2 linked regions of the Homo sapiens genome follow. The protein of the gene in region 2 interacts with the protein of the main gene of each other region in a pairwise test. Each region holds a gene or a part of one and is shown on either strand. Other genes may lie near its edges.

Region 1 (7,287 bases), on a different chromosome or scaffold from region 2:
TACTTGTCCATATCCTCTCATAGCATCCGTGCTTCATGAGGCCAGGTACCAGGTCTGCTTTGCTCACATCTGTATTCCTGCTGTGGAGTAAGTTGCTCAGAAGATGTTGGTTGTGTGGTTGAACCTGTCTGCTTCACAGCTCACTCACATACTCTTAGTTGGCTTCTCAGCTGTGGGACTGGCTCATGGTTGTGGGCAGGGCTTAGTAGTTGGCCAACAATGGCCTTGATGCATAAAAGAGTTTCCCAAGAGGCAGAAATTCTTGGGTTACATGAACATGAAGTTTTGCATGCAGCCTGGAACATCTCAAAAACCTGACTGGAAAGAATAAAAAGGGAAAGGAGAATGTGTGTGTGGATGGAGGAGGAAACTTGGAAATATCTCTCCAAGACAAGGTGAAGGTGATAACATTTTGACCAGAAATCAAGAATCAGAGACCAGAGGTCAGAGAATCTAAAAGGATAATGGAAGTATTTCTTGGAGGAACGAACTTCACAGTGGAACCACAAAGTCACCAGAACTCTGTGTGTGGGTTCTCAGACTGAGCATGAAGTCTGAGAGGGGTACAGAATTAGTAGGACTCAATACATGTTTATATCAATTGGGTTCCATTCTGTTCCTGAACTCGGGCAGCTTCTTTCAGCTAGCAAAGCCATGGCTGATCTTGGGTTAGACAGGAAGAGAGTCTTACCCAAGATAAAGAGTCAGCAGACATCAGGGAGGGCTATAGGCTGATACACTGGAAGGATCTAAGATGCAAGGGTGAGAAAAACACCAAGAACTGACACCAGAATCCAGCCTTGCCTTTACAGCTTGGAAGCTGGCCAGAACCCAGCTGGTTAGAAGAAAGCACAGGCTCTCTAACCGTCCTATGTGGTTTTGTTTTTGTTTTTGTTTTTGTTTTGATACAGAGTCATGCTCTGTTGCCCAGGCTGGAGTGCAATGGCGTGATCTCGGCTCACTACAACCTCCGCCTCCCAGGTTTAAGCGATTCTCCTGCCTCAGCCTCCCTGCCTCAGCCTCCGAGTAGCTGGGATTACAGGCATCCACTACCACACCCGGCTAATTTATCTATTTGTAGTAGAGACGAGGTTTCACCATGTTGCCCAGGCTGGTCTCGAACTCTTGGCCTCAAATGATCCACCCACCTCAGCCTCCCAAAGTGCTGGGATTATAGGTATGAGCCACCGTGCTCAGCCCACCTCCTGTTCTTAAGGAGCTCTGTTTTTTCTCTACCAGGAAACAGTGTAGCTATCAGAGCTTTCCATGGTCCTCAGCATAGAGGACTTACTATGGCCCATAAAGTCTGTCGTACCAGCCTTATCTTTTACCATGAGCAGCTAGGCAATTACAATGAAGGAATGGCCTCAATCCGAAACGGACTGTGTTTTCTGATATCAGAAGGATATGGAGAAGGAGAATAACCCCCACCTGATTCTTAAAAACAACAACAACAACGAAACCCTGAAAGTTCCATGTGGCAAAACAGGAATGATCTCTCTCCAAGGGTAAGTGGCAAGAACCCCCTTTCTCTATCACTGGCATCTGTTTAGGCCCTTCTTGCCTCTTCTGGGCCTGGGCTCCCCAGAACCCCAGCCCTGCTCAGTCTGAGCAGGGAAGGCTGAGCTATTTCTGGGGCTCAGCAACTCTGAGCCCCACCTGTCCCCTTGACCCAGGGAGGCTCTCATACTAAATGGGTAGGACAGACTCCAGGTGTGGGCCCACCCTCCCTTACACGGGTTGCAGCCTGAGGTTGGTCAGACAGGGAAGTTACCTCCTCGGCCCTCACTGGCAGCTGGCTTCACTTGGATCGGACGATTCATCTGAAAGACATCGGACCAACACACCCATTCAGCGTGACTGCCTGGTCCTGGAGCCCCCAGCTTCTCGAACCCTGGACTCCTCAGGATCTGAGCCCTAGCCCCTTTGAACTCTGCACTCTACCACTTCCAAACTGGGATTACAGATTTTCTCCAAGATTCCTTCCTTAAACCCAGGAATTTAGAAGGTGCTGAAACTGGCAGGGATGGGTGACAGGAACTTAGTGGCAAGCACAAGGTGGAATGAAGCGGCTAAAGAGACTTTTCTGCCTGGGGCTCTGGGCAGGGGCTATGTGAGGCCTGTCCCTTTGGCTTCTGGACTTACTTAAAGGCTTTGCATGAGAGGATTGGGAAGGAGGGTAGAATTGATACTGCAGATTTGTGTTTTATGTCTAAAATGGAGAATATCACGCTATGTGTCATTTAGATGAGAGTCTGGGAATCAGACTCAGTGCTATCTGCCCTCAACTCTAGTCATTTAATGGTTGTATGACTTTAAGTAAGCCACCTTTTCTCAGATTCAATTTTTCTTTTTCTCCTGTGTAGCTGAAATTACAGGCACGTGCCACCAGGCCCGGCTGATTTTTGTATTTTTAGTAGAGACAGGGTTTCTCCATGTTGGCTAAGTTATTCTTGAACTCCTGACCTCAAATGATTCACCCGCCTCAGCCTCCCAAAGTGCTGGGATTACAGGCGTGAGCCACTGCGCCCGGCCAGATTCAATTTTTCAAATGAGGAAAACATTTCCCAAGCTGCTGTATCACTAGAGTCTCCACGCTCACCTGCTCCATCCCCTCCCTAGGGTCCCCTTCCCTGAGGATGCTGGAGTTTTCCAAGGTGCCGTTCTCAGCCCTTTTTGTCTGGCTCTTCCTACTTTTCTTGGATAGTCTCATCCACACTCAGCCTCAGCTCCTCTCCACACAGGGATGACTTAGAGCTCTGTGTCTCCAGCCTGCATTCTCCTCTGAGCTTCAGAGCCATGTTACCAGCTGCCTGCTGGACATCCCCACTAGAAAGTCCCACGGGCGCCTTCACTCAACACACCCAAACGAGAGCTCATTTGTTTTTTTTTTTTTTTGCCCCAACCTGATCCTCCCAGTCACCCAAGCTATAAGCCTGGAAAGCAGCTTGACTTCTCCTTCCATCCCTTCCCCGCTCCCACCAACTTCATCTTTTAATTCAGGGGTTCCTGAGGAAGTGTAGATAAAAATCACCCAGGAACCAGATGAGGCTCTTAAGTTGGGGTATTGCATAATTTGAAAACGCTCCTAGGTGATTTCAATATATCGCCCCCACATCCCCATCCCCCAACCACCCTGAGTGAATTCATGATTGAATCCCCATCTCACCTTCCTCTCATGGGTGTTGTGGGGATCACATGAGGTAATGGGGACGCAAAAGGTCTTTGTAAACTGCCAAGAGCTGGGTGCGTGGGAGGTGAGGAATTATTGTTGGGGGGCAGGCAGCTGAGTGCCAGGAGGGAAAAACAGCGGCCTTCCCGTTCATGGAGGAAGGGGTACTGATGCCCATCTGGCCTGAGAAGGTGATGATCTGACCCCCTCCCCTCAGGAAATGCTCTGCTTCTGCACCAATCAGGGGCCACTCCATCCCTTACCAATTTGCTCGTTGCCGAGACAACAGGCAGCTTCCTGTTACCATAGCCACAAGTGCTACCCAGTAACCATGGTAACGCCCTGGCAGTCACAGTTGAGCAATTTCCTTTGGATCAAATTTGGGGGTGGGAGGGGCAGGGAGGGCTTACTAAAAAAAAAAAAAAAAAAGGAAAAGAGAACAGGCCAAGTCTGAACCAGCGCAACTCCCCTCCCACCCAGGGCTCTGACACACCCACCCGCTGGTGGTGGAGCACCTGCAGTGTACCAGGCTGTGGGTGGGGGCGGAGACACCAACAGGACTCAGGTTGCAGTCTAGAGGGGATGACAGATCAATCCAAGCAGATCAGGGCGAGCTTGACAGGTCTGGACTGGCCTGGACCAGGGACCAGGAGGACAGGACCCGTCCCTGGGCATGGCCACCTGTGATTGTGGAGGAAAGACCAAGAGACAGAGCCATGGAGAGCAGAGACACAGGGAGAGATGAAGAAACACTGGCAGACAGAAATGATGTGAGAGAAAGACAGTTCTAGAAAGGGGCAAGGAAAGAGAGTTACTGGTGGAGAGGGGAAGGAAATGAGGAGAGGAAGGGTAAGGAAGCGGGTGCAGGAGAGGCAGGGAGGAGCCTGGTAGGGAAGAAGGCCAAAAGAGTAGAAGCCTGGGGTGGGGGGCAGTGAGGGTGAGCAAGACCATCATTATTTTATTAGTTCTTAAATAGATCCTGAGAATTTCTCTCTGGAGCCTAGAGTGACGAGCACACGTGACAGCAGCAGTTTCCATGGCAGCTGCCTCCCTGGCTGGGTTTCCTGGGAGATGGTGCTCTGGGGGACGCCACCTTCTCTCCTCCCACCCACTTCCCCACCCTTCAACAGAGAGTGGGCATCGGGTGGTACATACATGTTCCCCCCTGGACCTGACCTAGGCCTCCCACCACCCAGGCATGCTGCCAGCATTTCCTGAACTCTGTGATGAGCCCCAGGCAGCCTTTCGTGGGAGACAGTGATGATCTGTATGGGGATCCTCTCTTCATAGGCTCGCAGAGGGGAAGATAATGTTACCATTTCCTGAGAGCCCACTCTGTGCCAGGCCCTTCCTGGGACACTTTACATACATTGTCTCTAAATCCTTCCAACCACTCTTCAAGGGAATACAAGTGTCCCCATATCATAGATGAGAAAGCTGAGGCTGAGGGAGGTGAAATCACTTGTCTAAGATCCCATGGTGGGTAAGTGGTTGAGCTGGGATTTACCCCCAGATCTGTCTGAGGCTGAAGCCCATGATTTTTGCACTGGAGTGCTGCTCAAATCCATTCTTAAGGCATGAACACAAATAGTGAGGCACAGAGGGACCAGGGCCTCGGGGGAGTGCAAGGTCAAGAGCTGTGGAAGAGGCAGACTCCAGCTGAAGAGGTTGACTGAGGAAAGCTGCATAGAAGAGGCAATGTTTGACCTGAGCCTTGCAGGACTGGGGTCATTGGCCATGTAGAGATAATAGGAGAGGTAGGAGTGGTGGCTGAGCACGCTGAATGGCTAGGGTACGGACAGGGAGCTGCAATGGCTAGGGTACGGACAGGGAGCTGCAAGCCTGAAGGAGCAAAGTTTCTAGTGAGCACTTGGCATGGGAGTAGCCATGGTAGAGCAAATTGCTTCCTAGCAGATAGATGTGGATTTCAATCCTGGCTCTACCACTTGCTTCTCTAAGGTCTCTGAGCCTCAATATCCACACTAGTGAAGAGGGAATCATGATCTTAACTTGCAGCGTTGTGATGAAAATGACAACTGCTAGATCTTAGTAGATACCTCAGATATAAAAAGTTATTGTTTTTTTTTGTTTGTTTGTTTTTTGAGTCAGAGTTTTGCTCTTGTTGCCCAGGCTGGAGTGCAATGGCGTAATCTCGCCTCACCGAAACCTCTGCCTCCCAATTCAAGCAAGTCTCCTGCCTCAGCCTCCCGAGTAGCTGGGATTACAGGCATGCGCCACCATGCCCGGCTAATTTTGTATTTTTAGTAAAGACGGGGTTTCTCCATGTTGGTCAGGTTGGTCTTGAACTCCCGACCTCAGGTGATCTGCCTGCCTCGGCCTCCCAAAGTGCTGGGATTACAGGTGTGAGCCACCGCACCTGGCCGGTTTTTGTTGTTGTTATTGTTGTTAAGGATATGAAACTGAAAGGTAGGCAAGGGCCAGATTAGGGAAGGCTGTGAAAACCGCATCAAGGAATTTTGACTTTTGACTTTGTTGTATTTCAAAGGCAATGAGGATCCAGGGGAGGGAAGGATTTTTAAATGTTTTTTTTTAAACATTTTTATTTATTTATTTATTTTGGAGACTGAGTCTCACTCTATCACCCAGGTTGGAGTGCAGTGGCGCGATCTCAGCTCACTGCAATCTCCGCCTCCCAGGTTCAAGCAATTCTCCTGCCTCTGCCTCCTGAGTAGCTGGGATTACAGACACCCACCACCATGCCCAGCTAATTTTTGTATTTTTAGTAGAGACGGTTTCACCATGTTGGCCAGACTGGTCTCAAACTCCTGACCTGTGGTCTTACTCTGCTACCCAGGCTGGAGTACAGTGGCGCCATCATAGCTCACTGCAAACTCCAAATCTTGGGCTAAGCGATTATTCTACTTCAGCCTCTCAAATAGCTAGGAATACAGGTACATGCCACCATGCCCAGCTAATTTTTAAATTTTTTGTAGAGACTGGGTCTCACTATGTTGCCCAGGATGGTCTCAAACTTCTGGGCTCAAGCGATCCTTGGACTTCATCCTTTCAAAGTGCTGGGATTACAGGTGTGAGCCGCTATGCCCAGACAGGAAAGGGTTTTAAGTAGAGGAATCATCTAGTCAGTTTTGTCTTATGAAGGATCCCATAAGCTGTCACTATGTGGAGAAAGGATTGGAAAAGGAGTGATTAGAGGCAAGAAGATCAGTGGCACAGGTGAGAGGTGAATGTGACCTGGATAGAAAGAAATGAACAGATTTAACAGATGTGTAGGAAGAATTAACTGGGCTATAGTTCTATTGGATATGTGGACCCGGGAAGAGGAGGGCATATTGGCTGAGCCTCAGGTTCATCGCTTGGGAGTTGGGGAAGGTGGGAGTTTGGGAGTTTGGGGGTACAAGGAAGTCCCCAGGGGAGGAACCCAAGAGAGTAAGAACAGAGTTGGGGAGAGCAGGGCTCTGAGCCTTCAGTCCCCACAGAGCAGTGGTGATGGAGGACACCTGGGATTTAGGCATGTTATGTGTGGCTGGAGGAGAAAGAGAGCTGCCCCCATGAGCTTCCTGGGCAACCTATTATATATATCTTGTTCCTGCCATGGGCAGAGGAGGGACATGGCAGTGGGATAATCAGGACGTAATCAGGAGTCCCCCTTGAGGAAAAGAGGACATTGCCTCCCAGGCCAAAAACTTGTCCTGGGACTTCAGGTGAGCTCTTGCCCTGGCTGAGCACCTGTTCCCTTAAGAATTTCCCAGGTGGAGTCCAGGCCCATGTCTGCTTCAGAGCCCAGCCCTGGAGGGGAATTCAAGGGATAGAATGTCAGAGAGAACAACCTATTCCAGGCAATGGAGTGGGAAAGGTCAGAGGCCGCACAGACACGCACAGGGCCCTGGACCTTCTGCCCCAGTGAGCAGAAGGGAGAGCAAAACCCTACCTAACTCTCTGCCCTGATTTGTCTAAAATTCCTCCCTTTGGGCTCAGCATTGCCCTTTTCAGATTCTTCTGCCCTGATGCCAACTATTCTTTTCACTGAGCACTCACACCCTCAGCACTCCCCATTCCATGGGAAGAGTTTATCAGAACCTTCTTGAGGAAGGGAACACTGGTAGGTCTGGGAAAGGTGTCAGGAGGTGCAGGGC
Region 2 (5,423 bases):
GTTGACCATAACTCTCCTTTACACTCTAGGTTTCTATAGGGGGTATGGCTGGAGAAGCTAAGAATCTATAAGGAGCTCCTGGGACTCCCAGAATCCTGGCCTCTGGGCCATGCTTATGAAGGAACTGTGGTGGAATGGGAGCCCATAAGTCCTTGGCCTGTCCATTGGTCTAGATATTATCCCTGGCAGACCATTTCTATCATAAACCAATCCTCCCTCCACCTCATCCCTACTCTGGGCAAATGAACACCAACCAGTGGCATTAATTCAAACCCCTTCCTGCCCTGTCTACACTGGAAGAGACCTCATCAGGCATCCCAGGCTACAGCTGGTAACAGAAAGCACAGAGTCAGACTGAAGTTAAGCTGTTGACCTGGACCTCTGTTTTTCCTGATGTTCTAGCTCTCTTGCGCCATTCAATCTCATTTCAGATAACCATCTATGATCAGGAGAACTTTCAGGGCAAGAGGATGGAGTTCACCAGCTCCTGTCCAAATGTCTCTGAGCGCAGTTTTGATAATGTCCGGTCCCTGAAGGTGGAAAGTGGCGCGTGAGTATGGACTTCCGCAGAACCGCAGCCCCTTATTTCAGGTCCCTTCAGACAGGGGACCATAGAGTGGGGATAGGGGAAGAAGGATGTTCCCCTAGGCTCTAGTCATTTCTCGGAGACAGGCCTCGAAAGAAATCACTACATGCATAATTTAGTAAGCCAAAGCTAGAAGGAAGGAACATGAGGTTCTTAGTGGCTTGGTACTAGATTTCAGGGGCTGGATAAAGAAATACATACAATGGGGTGGGACAGTGGCAGTAATCAAAATTTTGCTTCTGGAGCTCACAGGCTGCTACCTAGGGTGCCCTCAGAACAGCCACAAGACCCTTGAGTTTTTCTTGCCTGCAGAAAATTGGTAGAGAAGAAAGTGTCAAGTGGCTGCCTCTTCATGGCTAACTCTCCTCCTGCATATCCCAGAGCAGACACTGTTAGCTAATTTCTTTATGAAAAAAAAAACCTTAACCCCACGACTCCAGAGACATATTAGCTCCTGATTCATCTTTCAGGCAGTTTCTTGTTGATGGTTAATCTTGGTGAGGGAGACCCTCTCATTTTTGTCCTCTGACTCTTGGCAGAGTAGTTGAGGCCTTTATCATTAGCCTGAAAATACCTAAGGAAAAGACTCACCCTTGACTAGGCAGAATTGGCCTTGCATGTGGATAGGCTTCCACAAGTTGCTTGCCACCAAAATTAAGCTCTTCAGTCCTTTAAAAGATGTAACACTTTAAGGTGTCATCACTAACTGAGACCCAGTTGTGAAAAACTGAGCTGAGTGTTTCAAGTTTTAAGTACAGGTATGGGGCACTAGGAGAAAGAACTCGCAAGTCACAGGAAGAAAAAAGACTAGTAATCCATCAGTTGCTTGTTCATCCCTGTGCTTTCTTAAGAAGAAGCCAACAGGTTTGGCTTGAGCCAAAGCAATAGTCCAGGGGTGTCTAATCTTTTTGGCTTCCCTAGGCCACACTGAAAGAATTGTCTTGGGCCACATATAAAATACCATAACGATAGCTGATGACCTAACAACAACAAAAACAACTCATAATGTTTTGAGGAAGTTTACAAATTTGTGTTGGGCTGCGTTCAAAGCTGTCCTGAGCTGCATGCAGCCCTTGGGCAACAGGTTGGACAAGCTTGCAACAGTCACTAGATCCTGAAACAGGTAGAGAATAGGTGATTTGGAGAAAAAGAAAAAAAAATTTTTTTTTTTTTTGAGGCAAGGTGTCACTCTGTTGCCCAGGCTGGAGTGCAGTGGCACAATCATGGCTCACTGCAGCCTCCACCTCCAAGGCTCAACCCTCAGCCCCCTGAATAGCTGGGACTGCCAGTAGTGGGTCACCACGCCTGGCTAATTTTTGAGTTTTGTAGACGGGGTTTCGCCATGTTTCCCAGGCTGGTCTCCAACTCATGGGCTCAAGCGATCTGCTTGCCTTGGCCTCCTGAAGCGTTGGAACTACAGGCGTGAGACACCACACCCAGCCAGGAAATATAATTTTAGATTGGCTTTGCTAATACACTTCACTCAGACCAGTGAAGTAGATAGACCTTTTCAGTGATAACCCCCAAACAAATATTACATTCACTAACCTGCTTAGTATACCTGTCAACTCATTCCTCAACTCTTGTGACAAATTACTTTGTACAGCTCTACTGGGATTGGCTTGATATTTTACCCCACTATTGACTTATCTAAAACGAAAGATGCCTTCTCCCCAAGGCCATATAGGCTTTGAACACCATGAACAAACACTACATGTCTTTGGCAGCTGGATTGGTTATGAGCATACCAGCTTCTGTGGGCAACAGTTTATCCTGGAGAGAGGAGAATACCCTCGCTGGGATGCCTGGAGTGGGAGTAATGCCTACCACATTGAGCGTCTCATGTCCTTCCGCCCCATCTGTTCAGCTGTGAGTCTCTGAAATTTCCACTTCCGTGCATATGAGGGATGGGACAAGAGGGTGTGGACAGACTGACGTTCATGCTATTTATCATCAGTTATGCTGAATGTGGCAGGAAAAAAGACAAAAGTAAAAAAAGAGAAAACATCACTTTCTTCTCTAAGCCTGCTATTTGATTTTTCTCCACCAGGTGGTACTTCCCTTAAGCTAAAACTAAGGGTCTTACAAGTGGCAATAAGTGGATACTCAAGAGCCCAGTAAACTTGTGAAACACTAGTAAATGAGTGAAAGTGCTTACCCTGCAGCAAAAAGTAAATCCTTGGCCAGTTAAATTTCAATCTGTGTAACATTTTTACTGCAGAAACAGGAAAATGCTGAAGTAACCTTTCAGTAAGTGGGAATGACTGACGAAATAGGCAAGTCTTCCAGTATCGATCTACACTGATTGATAATAATCTTCTTGTTCTGAACACTTAAGTATTACTCAATAATGCATCAGGCTGGGATGTTTCTGGTCTTTGGAAACAGTTCAAGCAGAAAGCAGAATGACCTTAAGGGGTGTGTTGAAAATGATCCCTGTATTAGGAGTTAGGTTGGGCTAGAACCTTTCCAAATATTCAGTCTATGTGAGAGTTTCTCGTGATTTTGGTTAATAATCTCATCTTGGTTCAAAGTCTTGCCAAAATTCAACTGGTGGAGAAGTTAACCTAAATAGTTCTAATCCAAATAAATAGTTGCCTGTCTGGAAATTATTTCAATCTCACTTTTAAAAACATTTCATTTGCCCACCCTAAGGTATAACTGACATACAGTAAAATGCACAGACCCTAAGTGAATATTCTCATGAGTTTTTGAAAAATATATAGATCCATGTAACCAACACCCTAACCATATAAAGAACATTCCATCATAGTTCCCTGGTGTCCCTTTCCACTCAATTGCTCCCCTACCACTTTCTATTACCAAACAGTTTTGTCCATTTTTGAAGTTCATACAGGTTAGTCTCTGTCTTTTTAATGCTTGTGTAGTATTCATGTCCCCTACTGGACATACAGGTTATATCCAACAACACACATACACACGCAAGCGCACACATACATATTTGGGCTTACTTTTTGTAATAATCTGTGAGATCTTTTTTCACATTAGTGAATATTAATCCCTTGGTTGGCTGCATTTTGTTAGTACTTTTTCTCACTGTCAAATCCTCTTCATTGTTCCAAAATAGTATATCAGTTATTTGTACATTCAAAATGTTATGGTATTTAAATTGGAATAAACAAAATTATGGGTAACTTTTTTCTCACAAATCTGTTGCCTTAATCTTTTTAAATTATCATGTGCTTCCTTGTATAATCCAAAAGTGTTTCAATTTTGAAAAACATGAAGAATGATAGCCATAGCACTAGTACTAAACATTTTAAAACAATTTCTGAATTACAGAATCATAAGGAGTCTAAGATGACCATCTTTGAGAAGGAAAACTTTATTGGACGCCAGTGGGAGATCTCTGACGACTACCCCTCCTTGCAAGCCATGGGCTGGTTCAACAACGAAGTCGGCTCCATGAAGATACAAAGTGGGGCGTAAGTACAAAAACAGGGTTGGAATATACTTCAAAGTAACTCCTGAGGTTGCATCAATAGTTATGTTTTAATCAGATTTCATACGTATCGGTATAGATGTCACATTCTAGTTCTACATAATTTTGAATCTCAATTTCTTTATACCAACTACCACTTTAGGTTGCAGATTTATCTCCCCCAGACATGCCTCTATGGAAGAATTTACGTTGACTACTTATACCTGTTTTGATGATTAAGGCTAATTAACTAGCTATAGCCATATTATGCTTACAAATAGTGCCTGACACATTTAGGATGGCTATTTTTTCTAAGCCTAAAAGCATCTCATACCATTGTGTTGAGTAAAGAGGCTCAGGTTTTGGGGTATTAACCAGATTCCTAATTAGTTTTAATAATGAAATGTACTTTGAATTTCCTAGCTGGGTTTGCTACCAATATCCTGGATATCGTGGGTATCAGTATATCTTGGAATGTGACCATCATGGAGGAGACTATAAACATTGGAGAGAGTGGGGCTCTCATGCCCAGACTTCGCAGATCCAATCGATTCGCCGAATCCAACAGTAGCTGATTAAAAGCTCCAAGTACGATAATTCCTCAAGCATGAGACCTTGCTAAGCACTCTAGAATAAGTTTTATGTTCTGCTCACAGACATTGCTTTCAAATGTTAGCTGCTGAAATCCACAATAAACGTCATTTAAAAAAAAAAAACTTTGTAGACTGAATTAACTACCATGCTTCACATAAATCACACCTAAGTGGATGAGAATTTTTTTTTTTTTTTTAGTTATTTTGCTCTTGTTGCTCAGGCTGGAGTGTAATGGCGCTATCTTGGTTCACCACAACCTTCGCCTCCCGGGTTCAAGTGATTCTCTGCCTCAGCCTCCCGAGTAGCTGGGATTACAGGCATGCACCACCACACCTGGCTAATTTTGTATTTTTAGTAGAGACGGGGTTTCTCCATGTTGGTCAGGCTGGTCTCGAACTCCCGACCTTAGGTGATCTGCCCGCCTCGGCCTCCCGAAGTGCGGGATTACCGGCGTGAGCCACCACGCCCGGCCTGTGGATGAGAATTTTTGTTGTTGTTGAGACAGGGTCTCACTGTCACCCAGGCTGAAGTGCAGTGGTGCGATCTGGCTTACTGCAGCGTCATTCTCCTGGGCTCAAGTGATCCTGCCTCAGCCTCCTGAGTAGTTGGGACTACAGGTGCCTGCCACTATGCCTGGCTAATTTTTGTACTTTTTGTAGAGATGAGGTCTCACTATGTTGCCCAGGCTGGTCTCGAATTCTTGGGCTCAAGTGATCCACCCACTGTGGCTTCCCAAAGTGCTGGGATTACAGGTGTTGAGCCACTGCGCCTGTCTGGATGAGAATTTTTTAAGTCAAGCTT

Evidence for each region.
Region 1: the proteins of CRYBA1 (region 2) and CELF6 interact in binary tests that used the Homo sapiens proteins (3 or more experiments, as listed by UniProt).

The regions. Positions count from the first base shown.
Region 1 is NC_000015.10:72,302,972-72,310,258, forward strand, and holds part of CELF6 (CUGBP Elav-like family member 6), read right to left. Parts: intron 3,374-7,287; exon of another isoform or gene 3,170-3,373; intron 1,824-3,169; coding exon 1,775-1,823; intron 1-1,774. UniProt on the Homo sapiens protein: RNA-binding protein implicated in the regulation of pre-mRNA alternative splicing. Mediates exon inclusion and/or exclusion in pre-mRNA that are subject to tissue-specific and developmentally regulated alternative splicing.
Region 2 is NC_000017.11:29,249,751-29,255,173, forward strand, and holds the end of CRYBA1 (beta-crystallin A3), read left to right. Parts: intron 1-431; coding exon 432-550; intron 551-2,313; coding exon 2,314-2,455; intron 2,456-3,889; coding exon 3,890-4,032; intron 4,033-4,451; coding exon 4,452-4,599; 3' UTR 4,600-4,744; downstream 4,745-5,423. UniProt on the Homo sapiens protein: Crystallins are the dominant structural components of the vertebrate eye lens.